Linked DNA regions of Homo sapiens. The protein of the gene in region 3 interacts with the protein of the main gene of each other region in a biochemical or structural test. Each region holds a gene or a part of one and is shown on either strand. Other genes may lie near its edges.

The links.
Region 1: the proteins of BMPR1B (region 3) and BMP6 form a complex in vitro, tested with the Homo sapiens proteins (one study listed by BioGRID).
Region 2: the proteins of BMPR1B (region 3) and GDF6 form a complex in vitro, tested with the Homo sapiens proteins (one study listed by BioGRID).

The regions. Positions count from the first base shown.
Region 1 is NC_000006.12:7,860,187-7,870,776, reverse strand, and holds part of BMP6 (bone morphogenetic protein 6 preproprotein), read right to left. Parts: intron 9,327-10,590; coding exon 9,178-9,326; intron 8,477-9,177; coding exon 8,279-8,476; intron 1-8,278. UniProt on the Homo sapiens protein: Growth factor of the TGF-beta superfamily that plays essential roles in many developmental processes including cartilage and bone formation.
Region 2 is NC_000008.11:96,142,472-96,153,061, forward strand, and holds part of GDF6 (growth/differentiation factor 6 preproprotein), read right to left. Parts: intron 3,054-10,590; coding exon 2,092-3,053; 3' UTR 1-2,091. UniProt on the Homo sapiens protein: Growth factor that controls proliferation and cellular differentiation in the retina and bone formation. Plays a key role in regulating apoptosis during retinal development.
Region 3 is NC_000004.12:95,122,942-95,133,531, reverse strand, and holds part of BMPR1B (bone morphogenetic protein receptor type-1B isoform b precursor), read right to left. Parts: intron 9,723-10,590; coding exon 9,626-9,722; intron 8,550-9,625; coding exon 8,411-8,549; intron 3,671-8,410; coding exon 3,478-3,670; intron 2,318-3,477; coding exon 2,020-2,317; intron 1-2,019. UniProt on the Homo sapiens protein: On ligand binding, forms a receptor complex consisting of two type II and two type I transmembrane serine/threonine kinases.

The DNA.
Region 1 (10,590 bases), on a different chromosome or scaffold from region 3:
ACATGCCTGTAGTCCCAGCTACTCGGGAGGCCGAGGCAGGAGAATTGCTTGAACCCGGGAGGCAGAGGTTGCAGTGAGCTGAGATTGTGCCACTGCACTCCAGTCTGGCAACAGAGTGAGACCCGTTTTTTTTTGTTGTTGTTGTTGTTTTTTAAAAAAAAGATCCAAGACAGACATGCCTGTTTCCCCTAAGGAAGGTTCTTCAGCAAGACTCTCCATGATCTGTAGTGGAAAAGAAGGTGGCAGAGACAGGCACCATCCCCCTCAGAAGGAGAACAGAGTTGGGCAGAGAGGTCCCAGCTGTGGTGCCCAAAGCGTGTCTTTATGAAGCCTTTATGTTTCCAATACGTTGCCTTCATTTTTCCAATACTTTGCCAAAGGGAGGCTTGCATCTCATTTAGGCCTTCTGCACGATGCAATCAGTGGTAGAGAAACAGGTAGAAGTGTCCCATCCATTCCCGATGGCGGGACCATGTGGAAGTGCCTGCCATTTTCTACCATAAGAGACCGGGGTGTTCCAATCCAGAATTCACCTCGGAATAAAGCATCAGGTCCAGCCATGGCTCTGAAATCCCTCTCCCAAGCCCCAGGTGTGTCTTTCATTATCTGTCATTCCTCCATGTTACCTGGGGGCCAGTACACCTGGGAGGGGTTGGGGGCTAACTTGAAAGGAGCCATATGGAGGTGCATTTTTCTGGAGTCCAGCGGATGGGAGGGAGGACACAGTGATGGAGTCTTCTTGTCCTTGAGACACAACTGAGCTTTCACATCTGAGAGTCCTGTTCTGAGGGTGGTGGTGGAGGGGCCATAGCTCCCTTCCTGGGGGCCATCAGGGGTACATGCTGCAGCTCCCAGCACACACGCCTCTGGCTGATCCCCTTTCTCTGTCCTCTAGCATCTTCCTGCCCTTGCTCCTCCTGTTGCAGGTGCACGTTCCACACAGGCTCTGCTGAGCTCCTACAGTCTGCTCAGTTCTGGTGGGGAGTTCTCATCTCAGTTGCTAGGCCTTGGACCTGACAATCAGCTTCCTTGCTGATAGCCTCTGCTCCCCGACCTTAAGTCCTGGTCTCCCCTGTGATGACTGAGGAGACATTCCATCTACAGGAGAAAACAAATGGGAAGGCTGCCGGGGCCCATGTGACAGTGACGGGGCAGGGCATCCTAATCGTCCCAAGGCAAACTGAAAACTGCAGAATAGCTCTCTCATCCAGTGCAGTGAGGACAGGGCACCCTTGGCCCCAACAGAAGGCGGCTAGCTGGGCTGGGACTTCCTCACAGAAGCCATGTCCCCAGGCAGCGGCACATGCACTGTATACATTGCCTATACCCCCAATGCAGGGGTCATACCCCACACTAAGCATAACATCTGGGTTAATTCCATCCAGCATCCTTTTTATCTGGCCCTCCTGAAGAGCCACGCACACAGCGAAGTGCAAAGGAGCCCACTGTTGGTTAGCTCTGAAGCTCAATCCCTATATGCCATGATGGGCCAGTGACAGGCAGGCTTCCCTGGCACTGGAGGCCAGGAGAGGCCCATAGGTATGAGACCCAGAGGAGAAGGGAAGGGCGCAGCCACCATCCTGACTCTCAGGCAGGCATTGTGCGGGGAGGCTGCACCGCGGGGCTGGAGGGCCACCACGCAGCTGCTGCTGTGAGTATGACGGGGCTAGGGCGCTGCAGCAAGCCTGTGGGCTCCCAGGGGGGGTGCGCCTGAGTCACGGCAGCCAGAGCCAGCCTGGGTCCCAGTGACCCTGCCTGCTGTGCTTTGCAACTTCAGTAGAGGAGGACAGCGAAACAAAGGGCAAGACAGGGAGAAGGGAAACAAAGGCAGGGGAGAGAGAATGTCAGGGACACCACAGAAAGCAGGTGAGAAGGAGGGAGAGGGAGAGAGGTGGGGAGGGAGAGGGAGAGAGGTGGGCAGGGAGTCGTCTCCTCACCAGGGCTTCTGCAGAGGGGCCACTCGGCTGCCCTGGGCTGACCCCGCAGGCCCTGCCAGCTCAGCCGGGTGTCCCCGCTCAGCAGGTCACACAGAGCCAAGAAAATACCAGCATGGCAGGGGACTGGACAAAGCGGCATGCTCCACATGTATTTCCCAGCTTTCCTGAGCTCAGGCTACAGACTCTTCCCAAAGGAAACTTGTTTTTTAGAGGGAATAATTCACTACTTTAATTTCCCTTCTCTCCTAGAATGACAAGGGTGAGGGCCACATAGAGGTCGTTAAAGTGGCACCTCTGTCTTCATGGGCCTGGCCGCTCTTTCCATATCTCTGGGCCTTATCGGCCCCATCTTATCCAAAACAAGCCTCTCGCTCCCACTCGCCCAGCAGAATCAATACAGCCATTGAAGAACGCGCAGCAGGTGCCAGCTCCTTGTGTCACCGACACTACGGGAGGCCAGGGACCACACTGGGGTTTTGATTTCTGGTGTCAATAATCTCCTAACAGTTGATAGGGCTGGGGTGGGGGTGGACAGTTTGATCAGAGTCTAGATTTTGTTTATAATTTGGATGGTCAACATTGAGAAGCAACAGTGAGGCCCTATTTTTTGGTTGCTCCAGGAGATTTCAGGATCTCATAAGGCCCCATTTAATCTGGGTGGGACTTTGGTCTCTTTTCAGCCTTTGTCTTGATTCTAAAAGAATATGGAACTGTCCTGCAAATAGACAAAGATTTCCTTTAAAAACTTAGCTCTAAGACCCTCTGTGCTCTAAGCACCTTCTATACTCTCTGCCACTTCCTAGACTGAGTCTCCTGGCCCCAGTGCCCTCCCAGGGTTGGCAATGATTGGGAATGACTTAGGCATCTCACGGTACCTGCATAAGCTTCTTCTTATTGCCTTTTAGAATTGTTGCCATTTGCACATTTGCAAGGAGTGAACCTTGGGAGGAGGTAGAAGGGAACTTTCCAGTCTGTTCCACTCTTTGATAGCCATTATCCTCGAACAAGAGTTGTGCATGATAGAAGTGAAGCTTTTGATTCTAACTTTTTTTTGGTGATTCTAACTTTTAGATCACTATTTGCCATGACTGTCCTCCATGTCTATGGAGAATTAAGGTTTGATTTCATATAGGAAGCCCTGAACCAAACTCTACTTAAGACATCTGCAAGCCAAGCTGCAGGCCCTAAAAGTTTAAGATCACAATGACAAATCACAATTCCCAACTTTCCTGGAGAACTAGAAACTGCTAGTTCACAGTCTTGACCTGTGTCTATTCTTCCCAAGCTTTGAATGTCCATGGTGGACCGACCCAGTCAGCTCTGGCTATCCCCAATCCATGGAAGCCAATGGTGAAGTAGTGAGGACACTGTAACAATGAGACCCCCAGTCTGGACTGGATTTCCTTGAAATGTATAGCACAAGATTGCACAGTTATAATAAACTACTCAAACAGCTGTTTTGCAAGAGATGACTCCTGGTTAATTTACGCTGAAAGCCTATTGAATAGTCCCAACCGGGAAGCTTAAAGGACAGAAAATATAAACTATCAAGAAGAAGGTCAGGAGTATCCCTGAATGTACTAGAGCCACAATTTCCCCCAAGGTCCTTAAAGATACATGTTTGGGGGTGGGAAAAGGAGGGAAGGAGAACTTACTCTACAAAATGCTGGCCAGATGTGGTGGCTCATACCTGTAATCCCAACACTTTGGGAGGCCGAGGCAAGTGGATCACTTGAGGTCAGGAGTTTGAGACCAGCCTGACCAACATGGTGAAACTCCGTCTCTACTAAAAAAATACAAAATTATCCAGGAGTAGTGGTGCATGCCTGTGATCCCAGCTACTTGGGAGGCTGAGGCAGGAGAATCGCTTGAACCCGGGAGGAGGAGGTTGCAGTGAGCTGAGATGGCACCATTGCACTCCAGTCTGGCCAACAAGAGTGAAACTGTCTTAAAAACAAACAAACAAAAAAGAAATGCTAATAGGTGGCATTGATACAATGGCAGACTCATTCCAAAGGACAGACAGTGTCTCAAGAGGCTGCTGGGTCATAGATGGTTGGCAGAGCTGGGTAGTGACAACATAAACATCAAGACTGAAAGAGACTACTCCAATTTCACATGGATCATTAAAGTGCAGATAATGTTTCCAAACTCATCTATCAAAACAAAGACCAATTCTGCCTCACAGCAGCAGCAGCAGAGCAGACTTCAGACTTACCAGCTGACCTGAAATTGCTTTAGCTACACCCTCTCAAAAGAGGTCTTGGAAAGATCCGGAAAATTAGCCAAATGAAAATTTAGAATCACCCAATGGAACTTCAAGGCCATTTGTTCATGGACCTTGTCATGGATTGGCCAAGTGGTATCACAGTCCCCCAGAAGATAAAATAGTGAACCCCAAGTGAGAGCTACCATAAAAGAGAGTGAATGATAACAAGTAGAAGGAGACCACCAAACTGGAGCTATAGAACCTGAGGACAGGTGTTGCAAGAGCAGCAGGCTGGTAAGAAATGGAGGCTGAAAAAGAATTGGTAGATTGGTTAAAATCCCCAATGGGGCAAAGACGGCTAGGACCAGGACTAGTCAAACATGTGTAAAAACAATAAATGATACCATGCAGAGGCTATCCAAGCCCCTGGAGAAGTATAACAGAGCCAACCAACATCCAGCCTTCATTTAGAGCAGCCAGCTGCAGAGAAGCAAGGGCAAGTGAAAGCCATCCAGGGAGACGTCGATCCAAACCACTATCCAGTGCACATGTTTGGAAAGTCCAGCTTGAAAGCCAAGTACAAATGTTTGAGTAGATTTTGGTGGGTGGTGGGGCTCCTGGCCTCTCCACTGCTGTGCACTAGTCTTGCCGTCTCAGGCACTGACAGCACAATTCCAAAAATAGCCTCTTATTTCCTTGCCACGTTTCACCCTGATGACAGGCAATTTGATGAATGAATGCTAACTTCTTTACCCAGATGTAGGACGATCCCTGGTGGGCTGCTTCTGGTGGTGGTTGTTTTGGTGGAGAACTATCAACTCCCTGGGAGCACGCCATGGAAGAAGGGGGCAGCAGAGACAATGCAATCTTTTCCTTCCAACTTCCAAAAGATTTACAAGCAGAAAGTCTGCCTGCAGTCACGCCAGAGTACACCACTTTTCTGTTACTGTAATGTCTACCTGGTTCATGAAGGCCCAGCAACATCTGGCCTCACAGAGACCCCGAGGGAGAGGAACACCAGACAGGCCATTTCTCCAGGTAGCAGGCCATCTCTCTGGAAATCTTTTCTGGGAATCTCTTCCTCAGCATGTCCACTCCCATTAATGGAAGAATAGATAAGGAAGAAAGAGCCAAAAATATAAAGAAGCGCTTCAGTGGGCCAGACATGAGCAATTTCCCAGATCACTTAGAGGATCTTTGAAGAGAATGAGAAGGAGGGAGCATCCTTCATCGTCATTCTTTCTTGGGGGCCTTTAAATAGGTGAGACCGGAGAGATTTCGTATGAACCCTTTTGCCTTTGTACTACTGAAAGGGACAAAGCAAATTTGGAAGTACTGGCTTGGGAGGTGGGCGGGGGGAGACCACTGAAAAACAGAGATATTTGCACCTATTACTAATTAGATCAACTTGAATATCCATATTTAATTTAAACTCATCAAATTGAAAAAAGTTGAAAGGGACTTGGAAAATAATAATTGGTTGATATTGCTAAAATCAAAATCAGACACAACATCTTTTCTCAATTTAAAAACATTAGTGTGTGCATTGGGTGGGGGGTACTGAATAAAATCAAGTGAAGTTTTAATTTTAAAAAGCAATCAACATTTCAAGAGATGCCTCTGTGTCTGAGGTCCCAGCACCAAACTGACCACAGTTCATTAATAAATTGAAGCCTACCATTGGCAGACTTCCATTAATAAATTGAAGCCTACCATTGGCAGACTTCATCATCATAGCCCGAAGGAAAACACTGAGATTATTAACTCTGTTCAGCAGGCTGCCTCTGAAGTGAATAAAGGAAAGCAAGCATTTCTTCTCTTTTTCAAAAACCCCAACCCTGACTGTTTCTAGTGGTGAATACAGGAACACCCATGCTGTGAGCAATGCTTCCGAGAAACACCAGGATGACAAGAAGCAAAATGTCACATCACGCTGGGCGGTGGATCCTCAAGCTCCACATCCAAGTTACTGGTAAAATAGATGGTTGATTTAAGTCGGAACACAAAATGGAGACACTGCTTCCCAAAGAAGAAATAGGTACTTTGGGAAGTTGCATTAACTCTTCCCAACATGTTTGGCCACCAAAAATGACATTTCTGTACAATTACCTGGAAGAATTAATGCATCTTCCAGAATTATTTTACTTGTTTTCCAGGGATCCCAACATATGCCCTGAGAACCTACTTCCTACAATGGCATATAAATAATCTTTGAGTGCTATTATGAGCCAGATTTTGATGCTTTTCATTTAATTCCAGCAAATCTGCAAGGCATTCATCATCCCCATCTTACAGATGAGTAAATGGAAGCTGAAACAGATTAAATGTGTCCAAAATCACAGGGTAGCAACCAGGGAAACAAGTTCTCTGGCTGCAAATCCCACTGCCAATCTTCACCTTTATGGTTGATTCTCAAGCTATTTAAATAGCCAAAGGACCCCAGAATTTGCAAGCACTGGCATTAGAGTCAGAAGTGTCTGGGTTTCCATTCAATCCTAACTAGCTACGGGACTGGCTGTGGGGAGGGAACATCCACTCTCCCTTCCTCTGGGCTTCCATGGGTGGACTTCCATGCCACTTCCTAAAAACACACTGGGGAGAACTTTTTTTTTTTTTTTTTCGATGGAGTCTCGCTCTGTCACTCAGGCATAATCTTAATCTTGGCTCACTGCAACCTCCACCTCCTGGGTTCAAGTGATTCTCCTGCTTCAGCCTCCCAAGTAGCTGGGATTACAGGCACATGCCACCACACCCAGCTAATTTTTTGTATTTTTAGTAGGGATGGGGTTTCACCACGTTGGCCAGGCTGGTCTCGAACTCCCAACCTCAAGTAATCCGCCCGCCTCAGCCTCCCATAGTGTGAGGATTATAGGCATGAGCCACTGCACCCTGCCAGGGAGAACACTTCTGAAGGACCACTCAGCTGACACTCAGGTAGCAGAGCTGGTTTCTCTCTCTTGCCCTTTGAATGTGTCTGTTCTGAGCAGAATGGGACTCACCTTATTCCTTAGCTCCCGGGTGAGCACACAGTTCAGGTCTGGCCAATCAGAGCACTCCCCACCCAGCAGTGTGCTTCAGGTTGGAGGACGCAACCCCAGCCAAGCCAACCGGAGTCGTGCCCTGGATTTCTGCTGAAGAAGGGCTCTGTCTGAGGTTGAGGTTGCCAAGGGTAACAAAAATCCTGGAACCACTGGTTGCCTTCCTGGCCACCATATAGAGATAGTTTTACTAAGAATTCCACCAACAAAGAAAAATAGAAAAACAGAAAAAGAGAGAGATTCCTGATTATCATCTGAGCCCATGGATCCAGCCATGCCTAAAGACAGAACCCCTGGCCAGGCGCAGTGGCTCATGCCTGTAATCCCAGCACTTTGGGAGGCCAAGGTGGGTGGATCACGAGGTCAGGAGATCGAGACCATCCTGGTCAACATGGTGAAATCCTGTCTTTACTAAAAATACAAAAAATTAGCCAGGCGTGGTGGCAGGCACTTGTAGTCCCAGCTACTCGGGAGGCTGAGGCAGAAGAATGGCATGAACCCAGGAGGCGGAGCTTGCAGTGAGCCGAGACCGTGCCACTGCACTCCAGCCTGGGCGACAGAGGGAGACTCTGTCTCCCAAAAACAAACAACAACAACAAAAAAACCCTCAACCTCTCCATTAAATGAGCCAAAGAAATCCATCCTAGAGGGCTGAGTTGACCTTCCTTCCCTTCCAGCCAAGAGCACTGACAAATACAAGTTCATATTACACAACTGTACCAAGTTCGCTTGCACATCATAACCCCCCAGCATAACGCAACTAGAAAAAAGAATCTAGGTGCTCCCAGGGTTTTGATGGGAATTTAAAAAAGAGTTGGAGAAATGTAACCAAACAGAAAGATGCTTGTCTGGATCAACAGGCAGTCATGATGCGGGCAGCCTGAGTCTTCAGGTAACAAGTGTTCCAGGCTGAGGGCCCTCAGAACCCACGCAGATGTTCTGCGACTGTACAAGGTACCATCATGCATATGACACCTATTTGCCTTTGGATTTGCTGTGCAGAAGCTGCCCGACATCTGAGACTGTGGACACAACTTTTGTTCTCACTGAGGCCAACAAGGCTTTCTGGAAACACAGGCTCCCCACAAACCCACCTGAAGCACTGGAGACCCGCGCCACGTCCTGGGACTGGGTAGAGCGATTACGACTCTGTTGTCGGCGCCGGCTGGAGGCTGACCTGGTGGTGCGCACGTGCACCTCACTCACTTTGAAGAAAGCCACCATGAAGGGCTGCTTGTCGTAAGGGCCGTCTCTGCCCACCAGGCCTGCGGCTCGGGGGTGGACGTGGACTCCTTTAATGCAAATCAAAGCATGCATCTCTTTATTCCACAGAAACTTGTTCCTGTAGCTACAACAGTTAAGGGATACTTCCTAGTTTCCTAAGTGCTAATCCTTAAGAATGAGTGTGAAGAAGAAGATCATGTATCCCCAAACCTTGCCTGGCACCCATGGGATGGCATCTTTTGGCAGAATCAAAGCACTCCTTTCAAAGTTTCAGAATCACATGAAGGAGTGGCGTGAACTCCTGGGCTCTCCTGTTTCTGCTAGATTATGAATCTGCAGTTACCCTGCCCTCCCTGGTGGACAGATCAGCAGTGGGGACCTCAAGCTGCTGGCTCTGATGCTGCAGGAGGAGTGGGTACTGCAAACCTGTTCATCCGTCAGGATTTAAACAGATGCGCCTGCCTCTCTCTTACTCGCTGCATCCCCCGCAACCTGCCTCTGCCTAGAAAAGCTGTCCTCCCATCGCCATCCTCTTGGAAACATTACCACTCTCCTGTCTCCAAGTTGCCCAAGCCTGTTTTCAATTCCTGTCTAGGAGGCCTCCGGGAAAGGTTTTGGTTCTCAATGCAAGTCATGGGGGATCAGTAAATGAGGCCATCCTGAAGCTGAGGACTTGCCTGTTGCCCACGGTTCTATCACAACTGCTGTAAGGGAAATGTGTGAAACTGATGACTTGCTGGACGTTGGAGGCTTGCGGATAATAACTTACCATCCCTTGTCACCACGCTCAGCTGAAGCCCCATGTTATGCTGTGGAGTCACAACCCACAGATTGCTAGTGGCCGTGATGTCAAATTCCAGCCAGCCTTCTTCTGAGGCCCATACTACACGGGTGTCCAACAAAAACAGGTCAGAGTCTCTGAAAGAAAGAAAAAATGGCCTGGTAAATAGCGCACTGCCTGAAGCTCCTTCCCACTCTTTCCTGTCTCAGCGTCAGGATAAAACATGCCCGAGTCAGATCACATCTACCTGTGAGGCACAAGCACAGTGACTTGCCATAGCCCTGAAAGGCGTGGTACCACCCAGGACACAGGCATGACACAATTAGGAGAGACAGGCACATCTGATAAGGCGCTTCATAGAAATCAGCTTTCACCCCGACACGGCAGACCCTCTCAACTTTACCAAAAATCTTGCTAGTGCTGCTTATGACAGATCTTTTTGCGAATTAGGATAAATTACAAATAAATGATTTTTTAAAAAACTTTTTTATTTTTTTTTTTTTGAGACTGGGTCTCACTCTGTCACCTAGGCTGTAGTGCAGTGGCATTTACATTTTAATACTTCTATTATGTTTTAAAAATTTATTTATGATACTATTAGTGACTAGCTTACTTTATGGCTAATAAGCTCTAAAAACAGGGAAAGTAGGAGACAGCGAGAAACAGGATTGAGAAAAGATAAAAATCAGGATCCATATGAGCATTTATAAACTGGGCTTTGCTCATTTTTTCTTGTTTTGAAATTGGGACTGAAAATCTTCTCGTTTGTTCCTATGAAATAAGGAGAAACAAGAAGCCACATCGCATGCCTAAGTAATCATCTACTATTTTAATTAAGGCCTCTGAATGGTCTGCAGTGAGTACCCAGTCCTTCCCCATATGGACTGTGTAGCCGAGGGTGGATGCTGAGTGATTTTAAAGTTCATCCCAGCACAGTGGTGAGCTACAGCTGGGGTTCTTTGAGGCAAAGTCAGAGAATCCATTCCTTCCATTAGGCCCTTCAGGGAAGACTGACTTTTTCACAGTTTTGAACTAACATAATCAAGGGGCTGTGGGATGACGGTGTGAGGGTCTCCTTCTGCTCACCTGCATTTTATGATAGGTCAGTGCCAGGAGATGGTCATCTTTAGGGACAATCTGAATCTGCGTATCCATCCCATGGCCACTAGAATGAGATGGCCTGGGATTCCCATGACAGGGAGGGCTATATTTTGGCCATGGAAAGACTCAAAGCTCCTGGTATTGGAAATATTTTGCTGCAATATCTTACAGAGATAGAAAAACGACTAAAATTAAATACTAAGTTTAAGATAAGCATACATTTACATAAGTTACAAAGTGCTTTCATCTACTTCTCTTTGTTTGGTCCTTACACCAATCCTAAAAGCCAGGCAGAGTGTC
Region 2 (10,590 bases), on a different chromosome or scaffold from region 3:
AGTTTAAAAAAAACTCTCCATTAGACAGACTTAAAATTTTGTAATAATATTTAAGAAAATGGTAACATTATGAAAAAATGAAATATCTGATTAATGCTTAACTTTGTACAACTCGAATATAAACTTTAAAAATATTAGAAATTATAACATTTGAGTGCATATAACGTTTTGTACATTAGGATGAATTGCATGCTGTCCATTTCCTCTTTGCACTTTCAGTCACCTTAAATAAACAAATATATACAGCCTTAACAGAACAACAGTGCATCCAAAGCAAATGTGCATTTTAAATTATTTCTCCTGGCCAAGTCTTTTTTTCACTTAGCATTTTTATATTAGCATTTCTTATCATCCCCACCCTTTCTTTGACAGTTTGTAGTTCTCTGAACCAAACAAGCAACAGGTTTAGATTGGAAGAGAGCAAAATCACTTAGGAAAAACTAAAACTTTTTAAAAGGCTGGTACAAATTCCATTGATTAAACAATTTTATAGTCAAAGATGAGGAGGAAGCTAACTCTTCAAAGGGCCTACTCATGGGCAATGTTTGAAAACAATACTGGTGCAGGCTGGGGGAAAGTTCATGTTTTTGACTATCTGGGAATGGGTATTTCAATTTCACTGTGCTCTCTCCAGCTTCCTCCCAGAAGACGAATTCCACCCCTGTCTCCTTCCTCACTGCCTGTTCCCCATCTCCCACCCCAAGCTCAATGTAACACTTGGCTCTTTTCACAGTTTCTCATTACTAAGTTTTAAAAACATTGCCTAACTGATAATTACAATCTGAACCAATTCTTTTGGGGGAGCCCTGGGCTATTGCTGGCTGGTAATCTTTCAGGAATGTCAAAGAGAGGGGAGGGAACTCAGATTTTAAAGAAACTTCAGAGACAGGGACTTGTGTCCCCTTTCATCCCTCCCTTCCCCACTCCTGGCTCCTGGCCTGTCCCTTGATCCCCATCCTCCCTGAGGCCCACCATCTTCCCTCCTGATGGGACTCCTTCTACTTCTTGGTTCCTTTTCCCTCCTTTGTAGCTCTTACGTTAATTGTTTTGTTCCCCACTCCTGCCCATTTTTTTGAACTGGAAAATCACCTTCCCCTTAGAAGTGCATGTCTGAATTTTGGCAAATTCTGTTGAAAGAAATCAATTAGAATCAGAAAGGGCATTTGGGTGGGCTACCTCCAGCCTGGGCTAATGCACCTCCGTGTCAGCCCCAGTCAGAGGCAGGCCTTGTGGTTTCTCATTATCCTTCAAGGGGTTCCATTTGGACTAATTCTTGTCATTCCATCCATACCAGCTCCCCTTGCCCCCACCAGAAAAAGCAACAATGAAGGCAGAGACCTGGGCCCTCAGGAGTGAGATGAAGGTTGCCAGTTCCTGGTACCGAAAGAGGCCAGGGCAGAGCTGGTAAACTCACAGAGTACACAAATGGGTGAGAGGGGCACCCGTGGGCCCACCTCTCTCAAAGCTCTTCTATAGGCAGGACCATTCCTGACTTAACTATTCTTTTTGCCAATTTCCCTATCTAACACTTTCTGTGTGGGAGGGCACAAGACATGGGCTATGACATGGCCAGAGACCCCACCTTCTTTACACATGTAAAAACCAACCAAATCAAGATGCGTCAACGGTGATTCTTCCTCCCACATTGTTTCCCTTTTTAAACTGTTATTTTTTCAATCCATGGAGCAGTTGAGAAACGGGTATGCATCTCTCCTCCCCTCCCCTTCTATCAAAGCCTGTAAGACACATAAGGAAATCCAAAGCCACAGTAATAGAGAGAGAGAGAGAGAGAGAGAGAGAGAGAGAGAGAGAGAGAGAGAAAACAGAACAAAAGAAATCCTCCTTGGCTTGTTTTTCCAGGGTGGCCAGGCAAGGTGTGAAAATCCATATTTCCCTCTGGGCTGGCAGGTAGAAGTTACTGGGAAGGCTGCGCTCCCTTCTCTCCCACCGGCTCTCACATCCAGGCTGTTCCCTCACCCTCAGCCTCCCCCAGCGCCAGCTTCCTCCTCCGCCTCTCTGCAGCCAGGCCTCCCCTGCAAGGCGGACCTTGGCCCACCTTGGTTCCGGGCCAAGGCGGCGGGAAAGGCACCGCTACCTGCAGCCGCACGACTCCACCACCATGTCCTCGTACTGCTTGTAGACCACATTATTGCCCGCGTCGATGTATAGAATGCTGATGGGAGTCAATTTGGTGGGCACGCAGCAGCTGGGCGGGGTGGAGCCGGGGTCCATGGAGTTCATCAGCGTCTGGATGATGGCGTGGTTGGTGGGCTCCAGGTGCGAGCGCAGCGGGAAGTCGCATACACCCTCGCAGTGATAGGCCTCGTACTCCAGGGGCGCGATAATCCAGTCGTCCCAGCCCAGCTCCTTGAAGTTCACGTGCAGGGGCTTCTTGCTGCAGCGTAGCCTGGACTTCTTGCCGTGCCGCTTGCCATGGCGACTGGCGAAGGCCGTGCGCCGCCGCCGGCGGCCGGGCGAGGGCAGCCAAGGCCTGGCATCCGGGGCGCCCGACGGCGGCGGCCACGACCCCTCGGCGCCCGCGCCCGGGCCCGCAGCCTCGGCCGAGCCCAGCTGCTCGCGCATCTCTGCGAACAGGTTCTTGCGCTGGGATCTGGTGAATACCACCAGCAGGGCCCGCTCCTGGGGAGGCCGCACCCTCCGGCCGAAGCCCAGACTCCGCAGGTCCGGGGGCGGCGGTTGCTGGGGTCCCCGCGCGCGCGCCTCGGCCTCCCCGGCGTCCAGCTCGCCCCATGCGGCCCGCAGCTCCAAGCACAGCTGCTTCCAGGGCTGGTGGCGCAGGCCCTGCCACACGTCGAAGACTTCCCAGCCGGCCGGCGGCGCCCCCTGCGGGTCCAGGGTCCGCGCGTCCAGCAGTAGGGGCGAAAGGCAAGGGAAGAGCTGCACGTGGAGCGGCCCGGCTGGTGGCCCCCAGGGCGCTGAGGGCGCCTGGCGAAAGAGCCGCAGCTCCGCGCCCACCAGCTCTTCTTTGTCTGAGAGCATGGACACATCAAACAAATACTTCTGTCTCCGGAGAGGAGTGTGCGAGAGATCGTCTGCGAGATAAAAAATAATTACAGTCAGTTTCACTTAAGGGGGAGATCAGCCCGGTGCTCTTCGGCCGCCCCGGGAGGAAAAGGGCGGGGAGTGGGGGCAGGTCGGCCGGGCAGTCCAGCTTGCCCGGCCCAGGGCCTGACCACCCCGGCTCCCCATCTGGCTGGTGCATGGCGCGGGGAAGGGGGCGCGCCAGGACGGGCCCCCTCCTTCGCGTCAGCTCCGGACTCTCAGGGCGGAAGTCGGTGGCTGCTGGCGAGGCGGCGGCGGCGGCCTACCGGGTTTTCCCCCCAAAAGGCTTCGTAACCACTAATGTGCCCTTTGTGGTCTCAAGCCTGGGCCGCGTTTCCCCTAGACCTCCTCTGGGCTGGGCTGGCTCGTTCTCGTTGACGTCTCAAATGTCACCTCCTCCAAGTAGCCACCCCTGAGCACCCTGATCTAAGGTAGCCTCTCCAGGTCTCTATCACAGGACTGGCTTGATTATCTTCCCAGTACTTAGGATTATCTACAATTACCTTGTTTACTTTTATCTCCTTAGTAGTCTGCCTTTCCCAGTAACACTCTGTCTGCCTCCACCAACCCACGGGAGCTAGGCCGATGTCATTGTCCACCTTGCTCCCCTCAGTGCCTAGGGCGGTTCCTGACCTGGAGCACACGCCGGTCAGGTAAGTGGGAAACTTCTACGACAGCGAATCTTAATCTGGCCCACTAAAATGTCCTGGAGAACTGAAAAACTGCCAGGACCAGGGCTTGATTCAGCCTATTGAATCACTGTCTAAGGACAGGACTGGCCATGGGGTTTTTGTTTATTGTTTGCTTTTTTTTTTTTTTAACTCCAAGATGACTTAAAGGTGCAGTTCTAGTTTAGACTCACTAGTCTGGGGTAACATTGCTGCCCATCAGGCGGTTTTGGTGGGTCCAACACAGTGCAGGCAGAATGAAGAGCTGGTGAGAGATTTATTTATTTATTCACCAATCATTAAACAACAAACAAAAGAGCAATGAAGTTTCAGAAGTATTGGGGGCAGGGGGTGACAAATGAACAAACACACACACCTTGCATCTGTCCATTGAGAACATCCTGCAGTCAATGAGAAAAATATATACCTGGAAGGCAGAAAACTGGAAGGCAGAAAACCTCAGCCAGGGACAATTAGATACACACACACACACACACACACACACAGAGAGAGAGAGAGAGAGATAGAGAGACTTTCCCATCTCTCCTCCCACTCCCAATCTAAAATTCTCTCACTTTGCAACTATTCCTGAAGATAAAAGTTTTGGTCATAAGTGAGAAAAAGAAATTTAGGACAGGTGAGGTAGGGGAGTGTAACAGGCTTTTAAAATCCAAGGCAAATTCTTCAGAACCAAGGCAAAACCGGACTTCTTTTTTGACACATTTGTGCATGAAGCCAACTCCACTTCAATGTGCAAGGCGGAAAGCTAACCAGATTTTCCTGGGCTGCCTTCCCATAAAATATTTACAACCCAGCAAATACAAAAATCCCCAAAGCCCCCAGCCTTCCCCAGAAGCTAGTAAAGTTTGGGTCGATTTCAATAGTAAAAGTGTCACTGGGCCCAGCATCCAACCCTCTCTACCAGTCCAGATGTAGCCCGGGGGCACTGGCTCTGGAGCCTCTGCCACACCCAGTTTGTACTCGGGGCTGACCGTAGCACTGGCTGGTTCACTCTTACGCACATGCCCCAACCTGAGATGGGGTGTGGGAAGGGTTAGAGAGGTGAAAAGGGAAAAGCTGCTGCAGGCAGTTGATTTATGGAAGCCAAGACCTTCAAACAGACCAGGGTCACATTAAAATCAGGCGGAATTCAGCACACTTTCTTCTCCTTCAAAGAAACCTGTGTCTGACAATGCTCAGCCTCCACCCAGATCTCTGGACGTACTGCCTTAGGCTTGGCTTCCTGCCTCTCTCCCCAAACTAGGGATGAGATGAGAGCAACAAATCTAAGGCACTTGCTGCACTAGCTAAATGTGGTTAGGAATAACATATTTCCAATCTATATCCACCTGCACAGAACAGTTCTGAAAGGTAATTACTTGTATTATTCCCATTTTACAGATGAGAAAACCAAGGATTGGAGAAATTAAGGTATTGCCAAAAGTCAGACAGCCAGAAAGTGGTGAGGCTAAGAGCCATACTTATGTCTATTTAATTCAGAGTTGGAGCATTTAGCCCCTAAACCCCACTGCCTCTCCACTGTAGTCCAGGTACTGGAGTCTAAAAGTAACCAGAAGTGGCCAGTGTATAAGAAAAGGGGAAAAGAGTCCAAATTATTTGCAGGGCTTGCTAGGAATAAAATCTAGGCTCCCTTAGGAAATCATTTCCATCTTTGCTTACACAACTCTTGAGATGGTTTGCCACTGGCTGGAGTGCATTAGGCAGGTGTAAAGAATTATGATTTACTTCTCTCTCATGCAATATGGGGGAAATCAGCCTGCTTTTGTTTTTACTCTTTTAAAAAAAATGTGTGGGCTAATAAATGATTAATTTGCACAGCTGAGTTAAAACTGAGGCAAGCATCTGTAGAGAAAGATCTCCTACTGATTCTGCAGCCTTAGGATTTCTGATGATCTTTCCAGCAAGACCAGCCCACCCCTACCCTTTCCACGTTTCAGTGCAAGAATGCAAATGGGACTTCAGCTTCTTCTCTCTTCTCTTTCCACACTAGCTCCATCACCTACTTCAAGGGGCCTCACCTGTGAGCATGTGGCCATCCCAGCTGACAGCTTAAAGCTGTGCACAGTTTCACAGGTGCACACATCAGTGGTTCGATCTACCTTTGGGGGAACTGAATGGATGAAGAGGCTGTCCAGACCCTGCAAGTGAGCTCAGGGATATTTGGGCAAGAATTATATGGCCCAGGTATCTGGAGCTTGGTCTGGAATAGTGACTCTCAAAGCCACTAAATCTGCAGTGGTCTTTAAATCTGCATCATCAGCATCACATAGGCGCTTGCTAGAAATGCAAATTCTCTCTCGCTCTAGAGGCTTGTGGTAGGGTCTAGAATTTGTATTTCTAGTAAGCTCCCAGATGATGCTGATTCTGCTGGTCCAAGAAATTACTCTAAGAACCACTGATCTAACTGGGGGTTGTCCTCTAGGTTCTTTGAATTCACCACTGAGTAGGGGGGAGCACCAAACAAGGTGCTGCAAAGCACAGGGCTCAGGGCAGCATCTAAGGCAGTACTCACCAGGACCAAGTCAATTCTACCTCTCCCAGCCCATTCGTGGCCCCCAAAGCCACCCCCATTTTTTTATCCTTTCAGCCACAAGTTCTCTTGGTTCTGGGTCTCCAGAACCTCTAACCCCTAAACAGAAGGTCCAAGAAGGTGGCTCCTCTGTGCAGCTCCCCTGCAGACCACATTCCCTACCTGTCTAAACCTGCATCACAGAAATAGCTCAGAGGAGGCATCCAACCTGGGGAGTGAATACAACACCATGCACTGTTACCCTGAAGACACTTTGCCTGCTGCCTGCTGACCTGGCATCACAGAGCCTGGCTCAGCTGCCATGAGCCATCTGTGGGCAAAAAGCCAGCCCTTCATACTCCGTTCCAAAAGCCTCCTCTCCCATTAAGTCTTGTATAAATGAAGACTGATGTCATCAAATGATCCTCTCTCCCACCCCTTTGACTAAAAAAACATGCACTTGTCACTTGAAAATCTGTGGCACTTTCCCACATCCTGGAAGTGAATCCTATGCTTTGGGCCCTTAAATTGAAATTGACCAGAAATACATGGTGGGAGTTTTTTATTTCCCTTTTACTTTGCATCAACCTGGTTTGTTACAGCTTATTCACACCTCTGTTAACGGTGTTTGCTGAACATTAGACATATAAACATTTCCAGTTACAATTGCTGGATTAGGGCTTATCTTCGTTTCCTGGCAGCTACGTAGAGAAAGGAGGGTGAAGAGAGAAAAATAAGAAGGAAGGAACAAACCGTGGCATGTTAGAAGATACTCCTTCATAATGGTCAACGAGTTGGTAAAAGGCTGAAAGCACCTCAAACATATATTTCTGGTGTAGAATTTAGGAAAAATTTAAAAGAGGGGAGATGTTGGTCAAAGGGTACAAATTTTCAGTTAGGGTGAATATAAGGTAAAAAATAAAATTTTAACTAAAAAAAGAAACCAAGAGAAGGAATGGTACCTATTTGCAAAGTAATTACCATTGCACCCATTTTAAATGAGAAAACTGGCCTAGAAAGGAAAAGGGCATCTGTCCACGGTCACAGTACGTGGCTGGAGAAAGTTGGAGTGGCAAACTCCAGAGCGGAAAGGAAAAGATGCCCGCAACGCCAAAGGCCAGACGCCCGGGGAACCTGAGCCCCAAGAGGGCGGCATGAGGGAGGGACACGTAGCTGCAGGACTCTGTGCGCTTGCCCACTCCAGCCTGCCCACTCCAGCCCCAGAGCCTTCTGCTGGGGGCTACTTCCTTGGGCTAGCCTGTAGAGGGTTTCCAAAAACCAGAAACTTCCTTTGGTTGGAGGTGGGAAGGGCCTGGCATTGCATTTTCCCAAGACATCTCTGAGATATATACTCAGCTTGAGGTCCCTTTTGAAAGTCCTAGTTGGATTTTGTCACTCGCCTGGCTGTGCACCCACGGCTCCAACTTCCCGGACTTGCAGGATTCTTGGTACGGCTGACTTTGGGCTCCACGAGATTCCTCCGCGCGCACCTGGCTCACATCTCTGAGTACGCAGTGACCCTGGATAGCTACTGGCCAGGCGTCCCGCCACGCCTCCCAGCCATGTTCTCCGGTGGCACAGGCCCCGCGACTAGGCCACTGTCCAGAAAGTCGAGAAGATAGTGGACTTTCCCATCCCCAATCCCCAGGCAGGGAGAATCACCCATCTTTGCAAGAGAAACTCTAGGCGCCTTTCCCTTACCCCCTCATTTTAGAGCCAGCAGCAGCATTGAGCGCTTGTAGGGCACCACCTTTGTGCTAGGCACGTGCTCAGAGCTTTGATGGCCTCTCTCACTGAATTTTCACAGCGAACGTCTAAGGTCAGGCCTACTGTGATACTCACTTATAGATGAAGAAACTAAAGCTCTAAGAGGTATCTTGCCCATTGTCTTGAAACTAGCAAGGGACAGATGTTGAAGGTCCTAATTCCAAGTGCCCTGACCCCAGTCCTGCAGCGCAAGAGACAGGTGTTGAAGGTCCTAATTCCAAGTACTCTGACCCCAGTCCTGCAGCCATGCTGCTCTACCAGGGTCCTGTTTTGGCAGGGGGCCAGGAAATAGGACATAGCTTCATCATTAGTGTAATCAAGGTGGGCTGGGTTCCCCCAGGATTTTTTTTCTTTTCTTTACTACAAAGAAGACCTCCAAGCTCAAAATTCATGACTGGGCTTGGAGTCATTTTCTCAACTAAGTCTCTCACCTTCCGCGCTGCACTGAGGGGGCAAAGTCCATCAGGTTGGAAATAGAGCCAGGTGTACTGGGTGATTAAAAATGAGCCACCAACCCCTCCTCCTGGAGTGTGAAGGGCTTTAAGGGGAATCTGTGTGCCAACTATGTACCCTCTTCCTGAAATACAGATCTCTTGGGCCTCCCCCTGAGGAGATACTCATCCTGAGTCAGGCCTCTGTTGAGATCTGAGCTTTGCAAGCTGCTGACGCATTGCTAACATTCTTACTGAGATGTAAGTTCGGGAAGCAGTCCATACAATTCACCCTTTCCAGGGTGCTTTTTCTTAACCCCAATACTCATGCCTGATCCCCCAGCATAATAATCGTTAAGAGCAAACACTGGTGTGGCACTAAATCTGTTCTGGGCATGATCTAAATTCTTAACTTGTAGTAACTCATTTAATTCTCAAAACCACTTCTGAGACAGCCATCATTCTAAACTAAAAGAGACAGCTTGAGTAACTGGCTCAAGATACTAAGTAGTAGAGTGGGCAATCTGGCTCCAGTATCTGTGCCACCACCCTAGACATCCCAGCCCTGATCTCTGTGCCTTGTAGAAACCCTGAGAAACTCTTCCATGCTGCCCATGCCTGGAGGGAGGGCATCAATCCCTGGCCGGCAAGAGTCACTCACTTCAGCAGAACTACAGCAGTCATTACTTCAGCAGAAGAAATGTCGATGATTGGACTTGTGAAAGAGAATTTAGGAGGAAAATTAACAGGGCCACAGAGGGGTGCAAATGAGATAAGGTGTGAGAGAAAGACTTCTGAATGCAAATGTCAGTCACTACTGACAATGTGGAATGAGCATAGGAATTTAAAGTCTAAGAGACATAAATTTGAGTCCTGATCTGTGACTTAGTGGCTGGGTGACCTTGGTTAGACTGGGTCGCATAATCTCTCCCAGCCTCATATGCCTCAGCTGTAAAATGAGAGAACCACCTGTACCTTGCAGGATCATTGTAAAGGTCAGAGTCAAAGTACCTCAGGGATGTGCATAGTACATAGAGACGTCCAGTGAATGCAGCCAATATTTCTGTGACTACTTACATCTTCTAGGGGAAGGTGCACCTGTCCTTCTCTTGACTTCCTTTGAAATCCAGTTCTCTGGACTTCAGTCCTTGTGGTCCACTTCTCTCCACAAGATTCCAGAAGTGAGTGGAGGAAAGGTGCTAGGAAGCATGAGAAAGATGAAGACGCTTCCAGTTCCTGCTTATCTGAAGTCAAGTGAAAGTCAAGGCTCATGGAGGCTGCAGCCTCACCTCATCATCCCGATTCTTCTCAGTCCTGTGAGGCCCTGTCACCACTGCTGTCCCTCCCACAGTGCCAGGTGAACAGATGACCTCCACCCCAGCCACATCAAGGATCCAGCCCTTCTTGCAGGTTTCCTCTTCTGCAGGGGTCAAGGCCAGTGACAGCCCTTGTGCTAACCCAAATGACTCCCTGGCTGGCAGTGCAGCCCTGAGAGGCCTAAGGATTCGTTTCTTTCCCCACTTTGGTGTCCTTTTGTGGGGGCACGATCTGACCACAGGGCCAGTCTGGGGTGGGGATAAGGAGGCAGATGTTACTGATCTTCACTGTGCAAAGGGCCAGACACATATTGATGGGGAGGGCTGCAATGGAGGGCCCCTTGGGCTGCAGCATGAGGCCAGGCCTGTGGTGCTTGTCACTTTCGAAGGTTTCGTTGGCGGGTCTGTCTTCAGTGTGTGTTCCTTCTCATCACACATTCACCAGTCCAGCTTTTCTCATGTCTCTTGGCTTCCCCAGTGCCCTCCCCAATAGCTTGCCCTGTATTTCTGCTTCCAAAGACCAGAGGGGTCCAAGGCAAGTCTTCCACGGAGTCTTGGAGAGGCTTTTCCACTCTTTCCCTCAGGCCTCCAGACCCAGGCCCTTCTCTTCCTGAGGGGCCTGGGCCTTGTAGACTCCACAAGTTAAGTGGGTCTAGTGGCCTGCCTGGATCCCTGGGAGAAATCCCTGTATGGGCACAGCAAGCTGCGGCTCAAGGTGAGGCAAATGAATGAGAGTGGAGAGAAAGAAAAGAAAGGAGATCCTCGAATCCCACCCAACTGAAAACAGCTTCGCACCCCTCACCTCGGGGCCTCAG
Region 3 (10,590 bases):
GATCTAGATACAGAAGGGGATATGGGTGTTCGGGTAATGATAAAAGCATGTTATAAACACTTGATGGTATGAGAAGTGTGAAGTCTTCAGAATAAATCTTGCCAAAGGTAAGAAGTGTGGTGGAAATAGGGCAGAAGAATAGCCCAGGGTCAGAAAAGAAAAGAGTCCACTGCACCAAGGGACTCTAACTACATTTTAATACGAAGCCACAGGAAACTATGAAATTATTTTGATGCCCAAAATTAGGCTTCAAGAAAATAAATTCAGTGGCAGCATGTACAGAAGACTGGAAATAGGAGAGACAAAGAGAAAGTAACTCAAAATGCTTCACCCCAGAATCTAGAAAAATGGTATAGAAGGCCCACACTGGCCCAGTACAAATGGGAATATTGTGGAAAGAAAATTCATTCACTTGAGCAAACCAAAAGTTAGGGAACGAAAGATGATGTCAGATACCTAATATTAAGAATGGATCAGCCAAAACTGGGAACTAGGAAGGAAATGCAGATACAGCAGGAAATCTAGCAGTCGGAAAATATGTAAGAGGTAAAAAGAGAGCAGAGCCAGTGGAGAGAGAGAAAGGAGAAGTTGGAGTACAGAGATACACCAAGAAAACAGGAGAAAGAAAGGTTTGGACACTGTGGATAGGGTGATGGCAATAGAGAAGGCCTCTGGTGACCAAGCCCAGTGGTGTCTCTGAATACAGCAGTGTCCAAAGAGAATGGAACAGAAGCCAAATTACAAGACTATTAACAAATTGCTGGGTTTTCGAAGCAGATGATCTTTTGGAACTCTTGGGAGAAATTTAACAGGGTGAGAGAAGGAGAGAGAGGCTGGTAATTTAAGAAGCATTGTGGGATTTTTTTTTTTTATAGGAAGACTTGAAAAGGGTTGTAGGTCAGAGGAAAAAAAAATCAGAAGGGAGAAAGGATTTAATAATCTTTATTGGCAGGAGGTTCATATTTCTAACTTAAATCTATAGCCCAAATCATTTCCTCTTGCTTTGTTTTTAAAGATCAAGAACTTCAATTTCCCATCCTTTACATGGTGAAGACCTTCATATATTTGGGGTATGTTATTAAATCACACCTCAGCCTTCAGTTCTGGCCGAAAATACCAATCAATCAGTCTTTTTTTGTGAATTTTACTTTCCAAACTTTTAATAATCTCCATGACTTTTTCTTTGTGCTCCTCTCCATGTATTACAGAGTCTTACTTAGAAAAATCCACAAGATGATCCAACATTTATTAATGGCTAAGCCTAAACTGAGTTCTTTAAAAGGTAGTTATACGATGATTTCTCTACACCAGTGGTTTGCAAGCTCATTTTGTTTTGTTTTCCAAACAGAGAAACCATTTATTCGAATTAAATCATCTGTGAGACGGAAGGAGCCTCTCTGATTAAAGTAAGAGTAAGCAAAATAGAGTCCCAACTATCATCTCCCCTCCCTACTGTGAAGAAGCTACTGATGTAACCCAAGCAGCCCTAAGGGTCTGAAAACCACTGTTTTACAACATGCTCTGGTTTATGTGCACAGATGTTAAATTCACTGTTTCAGGTACAGGATAACAGTACTGAATAACAGCTGGGTTTTGTTTATTAGTTTCTAACATTTCTCCCAAAACATCTATGCAAGTTATCTTTCCTATACCATATAAAAATTGTCTTTATCCATATATAATCTGTAAATTTTCCCCAAAACTTTTTCCTACTTGCAAATGTTATGCAGAATTCTGACTACGTATTCCCAGGAATTAGCTACTTCTTTTCTATATAACTTAATGACAGCTGCAAACCTAATGTGAACAGTCTCTAAGCAATGTCTCTGATGAGCATAGAAACAATAGAACAGACCCAAATATGCTGTGTTGCTAATAAAATGTTTGGTGGTTCTCCCCGTCAAATGTCAAAATTAATGATATTCCTCTTCTACTAAATATCCTAGAAGCACTGCGCTACAAAATAAAAAGTAACAGAAAAGAGTCATAAAACATGTATTTGTTCACTTTGATACTAACCTAATAAATTTAACAGCCAGGCCCAGGTCAGCAATACAGCAAGTTCCATTTTTCTTCACCAGAATGTTTTTACTTTTCAGATCTCGATGGGCAATTGCTGGTTTGCCTTGAGTACTAAAGATTTCTGTGTGTAAATGACATAAGCCACTGACAGAAGAGTAGGCTAACTTCAGCATTGATTTAGCGTCTAGGGTGGTGGACTTCAGATAATCATAAAGGGAACCATTTTCATGATAGTCTGTGATTAGGTACAACTGGGTCCAGGACCCTGTCCCTTTGATATCTGCAGCAATGAAACCTAAAAGGAAAAAAGATGAAAAGGTTTAGTGTTTTCCAAATAGTATCAGGAATAATTCATATTCTCAAACATCATTCTTTGTCATAGATAATTTTTGTTTAGCATTTCATTCAATTTCCTGACTATGCCTATGATGGTATTAAATGACTAATACCAATAAGAAGCAATCAAAATTGTACAAGTAAGGCTAGGCACAGTGGCTCACACCTGTAATCCAAGCACATCGGGAGGCCATGGCGGGTGGATCACTTGAGGTCAGGAGTTCAAGACCACTCTGGTCAACATGGTGAAACCCCATCTCTACTAAAAATACAAAAATTAGCTGGGCATGGTGGCATGTGCCTGTGATCCCAACTACTCGGGAAGCTAAGCAGGAGAATTGCTTTAACCTGGGAAGCAGAGATTACCGTGAGCGGAGATCACACCATTGCACTCCAGCCTGGGTGACAGAGCGAGACTTTATCTCAAAAAAAAAAAAAAAAAAAAAAAAAGAAAAGAAAAGAAAAAGAAAAAAACCTGTAGGAGTAGAGAAAGATTAAGAGTTTACATCTGAAAATATGGTCCCTTCCTAATCAGTAGTTGATGTTTAAACTACTTTATGGTATTACAAACTACTATGGTATATAAACTACTTTATGGTATTATGGTTACACATAAGACATTGCAAAACAGGGTCTTGAATTCTTGAATTAAGGAATATACCCCACTGATTAGCTTACTCTCCTTCTACTTGAACGATCCAGACAGATCATTTCTAACTTGCGAAACAAAATCAATTCTCAATATAAACTATTGATATAAATAAACCCTGCAGATAAGATTCCTACAACTTTTCTCAACATTTAAACAAAAATAAGTTCCTTCAAATTCCTAAGAAACCCTAAGAAATTCTGGTTTTACACTCGCATTTCCTGTTTCTGAAGAAAAAATATTTGAGAGTATTCCATTTCCAGCCTACCACTTACTCACAGAAGTGCCTTAGTCATTCCTCCTGTGAGGTCTCCCATTAGAAACTTATGATGTTCTTGGGCCCATGCCAAGAAGAAAACTTCAATACATTTCGCAACGGGTCTAGACAGATGAGTTAACATGCAGATGTTAACAGAAAGACAGAGGAAAGCTAGGAAACCCTGAACATAGCTATGCAGACTTTTACTCACCCAAAATGTTTTCATGCCTCATCAACACTGTCTGATATATTTCTGTCTCTCTGAACCAGCTGGCTTCCTCTGTGGTGAAGAACACTTTCACAGCTACCTTTTCGCCACGCCACTTTCCCATCCAAACTTCCCCATAGCGACCTTTTCCAATCTGTTTCACCATCTGAATCTGCTTAGCTATAGTCCTTTGGACCTGTGAAATCCCAAAACACACTGTTAGTGTATTCACAGCGCTACAGATTTGTTTAATCTTTTTTTCTCCAGAGAAGAAACGATTACTGCATGTAAAATATATTTAGCTAGTATTTTTCTCTATATAGACAACTTATTTGTATTTATTTATTAATTTATGTTACACTCTTTTAAACATATTTGAGATTGAGTGTGGATTCTGAATGTTCAAAACACTGCTTCCAAATTATGAAATACTTTATTTTAGTATTATTATTTTCTCAGAGAAAAAACCTGAGTAGGCTCATAGTAATCAGCAGAGTAGAATACTTGCACTTCCCCGTTATAATGGACTACTACATACTCTGAAGAGACTCGTCACCATACACCTAATCATGTATAAATATAACAAAACAAAATTGTAATGCATTGTTAGGCACATACAGAAATAAAGGAAATCTATATGCAGGGAGGAAGAAAAAAGGGAGGGAGGGAGGAAGGAGGGAGGGAAGGAAGGAGTTGAGACCAGACCAGGGAACGATAAACCAAGCTGCCGTCTGGGCAAAGAACAATACCAGAACTGGAATCCAGAGTTTAAACTCTGACTCCTTTAAAACCAGAGGAACTGAACCTAGGGCTTCAGCATTAAGCAGAGAGCATCAAATGGTACTAAATTTGCTATGGGTTGGTAGCATGCCAAGGCTCCTCATTACAAATGCTCTCTCTTGAGGAAACCATTTGCAGAATACTTTTCATGCCGTGACTATGGCGGGATAATAGTACTTTGAAGGAACTCTTGCCACCATACAACTTGATCATGGGTATAACATAAGAAATAAACTGTAATGCACTCCTGGGCTCACAGGGAAATAAAGGAAATATCCAAGAATGGGGAGGAAAAAGGAGAACAAAAAAAAATGGAGGGAGAGAAGAAAGAAAGAGAATGAGAGAAGATTATAGAGAATGAATTCTTTAGAACAAAGAAACAGTCACTATAAATGAGAGTCAACAGAAACAACCCAAGTAGATTTAACCTCTTCAGATTACATACTGGAATTCTGAGATACAGAATGCCAAGTAACTCTAAATGAAATGAAAATTGAATAAAAAATAAGCAAGAAAAGATTAATGGAAATTACATTTTTGTAATGAGACAGTTAATTGTCACAATAAAAAATGCAAAACAGGTAGACAAACCAGCATATTAGAGAGAAAAGTTAATAAGAGAAAGTAACAAGTTGGAGATAATATTATTTACCAAGCTCTAAGAGAGCTCTGAACAATATTATAAAGAGTGGAGTACAGACAAAGAGAATGAAAATATGAGTTAAGTGGCATTAAATTTAAATGTCTCTTTATATATGATCTTCATCACATCTGTACTTACAGTAAAATATTTGAAGAACTCTGATATCAATGGTTCCAAGATTGAAAGGGCTAAGCATCTATTACAATTTATATAATTTAGAGGACATAAGGAATCTAGCGTATAACTCTTATAACACCTGATCAGCAAACTGGAACGTATTCTTTGTAGAGATATACTTTACACCAATTAAAAACTTAAAGTTTTTCTTTTTGTACTTTTAAGAGCCATGCAATTACATTGGGCCACCCCAGATAATCCAGAATGATCTCATCTTATCGTCAGCAACCTTTGCTCACCTTTGTCATAGAACATAAAATTCTAGGGATTAGGTCTGGGCACGGTGGCTCATGCCTGTAATCCCAGCACTTTGGGAGGCTGTGGAGGGAGGATCCCTTGAGTCCAGGAGTTCAAGACCAGCCTGGGCAACATGGCAAAAACTCAGCTCTACAAATAATATGAAAATTAGCCAGGTGTGGTAGCACACACCCGTAGTGACAAGCTACTTGGGAGGCTGAGGTGGGAGGATCGCTTGAGCCTGGGAGGTCAAGGCTGTAATGAGACAAGATCGCACCACAACACTCCAGCCTAAGTGACAGAGTAAGACCTTGTCTTAAAAAAAAAAAAATCCTGGGGATTAGGGCATGAACATTTTGGGGGGACATTATATATTATATATTATTTATAATGAAGATTATAAATTTCGTAATTTATTAAAAAAGAACTGCTGATGTACCATGAAGCCACTGAAGCTTGATGGAAATAAGCAAGCAAGTTTATGTGTAATGCAGCCGTCCTCTCTTTAGGAGCCCTGTGCGCCATGAGACATCATGTTGAGTCCACTGTACTCCATTTCCAAACAAGGAAACAGGAGCAACATGGGCACCAGTTGGGAGCCAAATTCATACACAGGGAAATCACTCATTTGAGAGGAAACTTCCCACATTTATTAAAGAAAAATATTTAATTTACAGATCTTACAAAGCATTGCTCATGTAAGTCTATGGAGAATTTCCTAACATAAGCAGTTTTGCATCTGCTTTTTTTTCTAACGATAATACATTTTATAATTTAATTATAAGTTTTGACAGAATTGGCGATACTTGATAGAATAGGAACAACTTATCCCAAAGACAGAAAGTAAGCTATTATAACATGTAAGGACCTAAAAATATAACTTCAAAATTTTTTAACTGATTTATTTTAGTTTTTATTTGATTTAGCAAATGTTTCTGGTCCTTCTGTACCTAAACTTTAATTCTATATTACATTCTTAGATACCAACTTTTTAGATTGATTGTATAAATAAAATGCCTGTAAGATACAATGACTATAACTGTACTTTCAAAAAGATCACTATATTTCATGTACTCTGAGAATAACTGAATGTATAAGGAGTTATAAAGAATTATCACTATTCCAGGACTGTGAGAAGACATACACAGAACACACACACACACACACACACACACAGTCTTAATTCTTACAACAGCCCTACGATATTATTTCCTTTTAAAGTAGGAAAAAATTGACATTTTATGAAAAAGAAAAGATGCAAAATTAAAGGGCACGTATAAAGTCATTTGTTAAACACAAGGTCCAAGTATGTGGTTATATATAAGGCACTAATTTGCCCATTATGTTATTAAAATTAATAACAAATCAATGTTAAGATGAGGTATTCACTCACATATCAATATATGGAGAGAGAACTGTATACCTCTGCATTGTTTATCTTAATAACCAAATCTTAAAACCAGAAAATAAATCTGTAATAGAGACTTTTTCTTTATTGAACTGAGTTTTATAGAACCCTCCTTCCCATCCTACCGCCATCAAATGCACTTTCTTGTTTTATTTAACCAACATTTAGTTCACATCTCACTAATGTTAAGAGCACAGATCATCTGGGTTTGAATCCTGGCTTCTCCACGTACTAGCTAGCTGACCTATCTGGGCCTGTATCCCCTGATGTGTAATACAGGGTTATACTGATATTTCTGGTACTACCTTATAGGGTTGCTATGAGGACTAAATGAGAATTTGATTTAGTTTTAAAGGCCAATGTCTGGCCAGGATTGGAACCCAGACAATTTGGCTTGAGAATATATGCTTTTAATCATTATATGATGTGAGCCAAATATTATTTTTTGGTATCTGGATTATAGAAACAAGACAGTATTTTTATAGCTATTAAAAGTAGGAGCTGAAAGCTTTTTAAAAACAAATTATTGAACAGCGCCTATAATAAATCAGCCACTCTACTGGGGATAGAAAGTGAGCAAAATGTAACCTCTACCCCAAAGAGGACAGACTCCACCAAAAGACACAAGAACATTACCACTAATTATAACATTATTTTAAATGGCCATTATTAGTGCTAAAAATAAAATGTTATCACAGAAGATAAATAGACTGGCTTAGTCTGGGGTAACTGAGAAGTTGTCACAGAGGTAAAACATGAGGTAGGCCTTGAGCCATGAGTTGGAGTGATGTCCAGTAAAGAGATTACATTTGCAATGACGTGGATATATGTTGTATTTGAGAAACAATTACTCAAAGGTGATGCTAGAGCCCAGGCAGCATACTGGGAAGAGGTGGGAGGAGACGTCAGGAAGGCAGGTTGAGTTTATGTGCCACACATACCAAGCTGGGAAAGAAGACCTGCAAGCAGTATTGGGTATTAGGATATTTTACCCAGGACATAACAGTGCAAGATCAATGGTTTTGGAGAAAGAACTCCACAGTAATGGGAAAGATGAGTTTGAAGGCAAGAAACACTGGAAGAACTCAGTTTAAATTCCAAGAGCATCTAATTCATTAATACCAAAAGGGATTTTACTATTTGTACATCTCTTTTAGAAAAAAATAAGTGTAATACTATTGATTTTCAAATTGTATTTGCTCATATATTCTCTTCAAGGTTGGCAGTGCTGACCATCAGAAAATGAAGCTTCTCCTGAATGGAAAAGCCAGAACTTTACCCTGAAACATAAACCCCACAGCTGAAAAGCAACCCTCTTTCTTTGTAGAAATACTGAGAAGCCAGTTGGTTGTAATACTTTAGCCTTCAAAAGCCAGGCCAAAGTGCGGTAATGCTATCCTTATGGAAAACACAGGGAAGATGGTCCCGTGTTTAATGTTTTCTAATCTGCTCTTCATCAGAATGTCTGAGGGTCTGGATTGTAACCATACACCTACATTAAAAAACAATCACCTTACTCTCAATATGTCAAAATGTTATCAGGAAGCCCTGCAGCTGAGATCGGATGTCCAACAGACTGCATAGAGCTTTCTCCTTGTCCAGTGCCCTATTTCAGTAAGTGAAACCCCATATTCATTGACAGTTCTTTCAGAAAACATTTCCTTTAAATTCAAGATGTGTTCTTCTCATACCAGCAGAGGGAGGCCTGATCCACTTCCTGAGCTCTGAGACTGCTCAATTAAGTCTCTCAGGGATTCTCCAGGAGGAATGTAAGTTTCATCCTGTTCTAACCCAATGCTGTATCGAGGTCTGGTTTCTTGTCTTTTATACCTAAAGATGGATAGATGAAGATAATTTTAGATAATGAAATGCAATGATGGAGTAAAATATTGCAACTAAAATGGTAATCACAGCAGTTTTATTTTAGCACCTAAATATAATACATTAAATGCTTCATATTTTTTACTCTTAGTTATGGTTTCCCAAGTAAAACTCATTACTGTTTGGCTAACCTATTTTTTAAAATAAACTAAATAAACTACATATTTTTACTCAGTCTCAAGCATCTACAATTTTTCTTCTTTTATTTATTTCAAATTGCACATATCCAAGCAGACTACATTCTACTAGTGTTTCTAAATAGCTCCAATATTATTCCTTAAAATCTTTTCTAAGGTCCCTAATTAATTAAAGATGTAAATTTTGGGTGTACAAAAATCATTATAGCTAACTCTCTTATATAAGGTCATATCTAAAGAAATAATATAAATTTAATCTTTAAAAACTTTTTGTCAATACTTAAGTTTTCAATTAGAAATGAATTTATTTGAATCAATTAATCTGACCATTTGCAGAGTATCTCAAATGAGTAATAAATTAATCAAAAGGCAAATGACATAAATATCAAGGTCCTTAATATTTCACAATCTAGAACATAAGTTCATAGGCCATTAAAAAAATAGGAATTACCGAATTTAATATAATAAAGGACCTTATTTTAATGATTAATCTATAAATTATGTTTAAAATCTTTTAATAATCAGAAACGTTATAGCTTAGAAAATAAGGAATTTGAGCAACTCTTAAGTTCAACATGGCCATTTCTCTGCTTGGAATCAAACCTAAGTAACAACCAGTCTCTGAAGTCTCTAACTACCCTAGTTTCCCTAGGGATAAAATATTTATATGGGTAGTTTTGAAGTCTGAAGCAGAAATGAGATAGGTATCTATTTGTAACTTCATTAGGACAAATATTTATCAACAGTAACAGACATTTTCAGTTAACTATAAGATCTAATTAAGATAAATAAAGCTGTGGTGAGAAACACTAACAGGCAAAAGCAGAATATTAGTAAAAAGAAGACACTATAAATTAAAAATTTTGCATCTACATGTTAGAAACTTACCGGAAGTAACAAAATAATATGATAAGGACCAAGAGCAAACTACAGACAGTCACAGATATAAGTAAAGCCCTGTGGTGTATAGGTCCATCAACAAAATCTGAAATTAAAAAGAAAAAGAGCCATAATCAAGAGAATATTTTTACTTAAAAATAAGAAAGTAACTCTTTCCTAAAGGTACTTGCTAAGTATCACGCACAAAATGTGAAAGATCCTTTTCACATACCAATTAATTTTTTAAAAACCCATATATACTCAAAATTAAATAAGTTTGACTAGCGTGAATCATCCTTCACCTAGGCACTTAATCAAGAGCACACATTTCTTCCTGTCTGGAAGGAACAGGCTCGACACAGGATAAAACTACAGAAAGAACATCAACAAAGCTAAGTGGGTCTGTGCACCCACAATAGAAACAGGTAGTTCATCTTTATTACAGACGCAGCTCATGGGTTCATAGGCTCTTCTCATGTGGTCTCTGGAGTACTCTATACCATGAATTTGAATAAAAAAGCATCTATATAATTCATGGGACATAAAACATAACTCGTTGTATATAAAGTCATCTTATAGTGGATAAAAAGGAAGTGGACCCCTCAAATGTTGCCAAATAGAGAATATATGGTTGTGCGTTGTTTTAAACAAAAATGTGTTCAAAATCCATACTTTTTCTTAAACTGAATCATATTTTAAAAGAATGTATATGTTCCAGCCAAAGAATGTATGATACTTTTATACAACAAATTATTAAACACTACTCATTTTAACTCTAGTTCTTGACAAATCAGATTCCTCAAATTTTATATAAATGACTTAACTTTATACAATGTATATTCACTGACTTTAACCCCAAAGATTTCCATTCAAAGTACTTTATTTTTAATAATCATCCCAGGTAAATTTTACACGGGTGATTTCTGGGACATATTTTGAGGAAACTGACTTAAAACCAGGTGCACTTATATAGT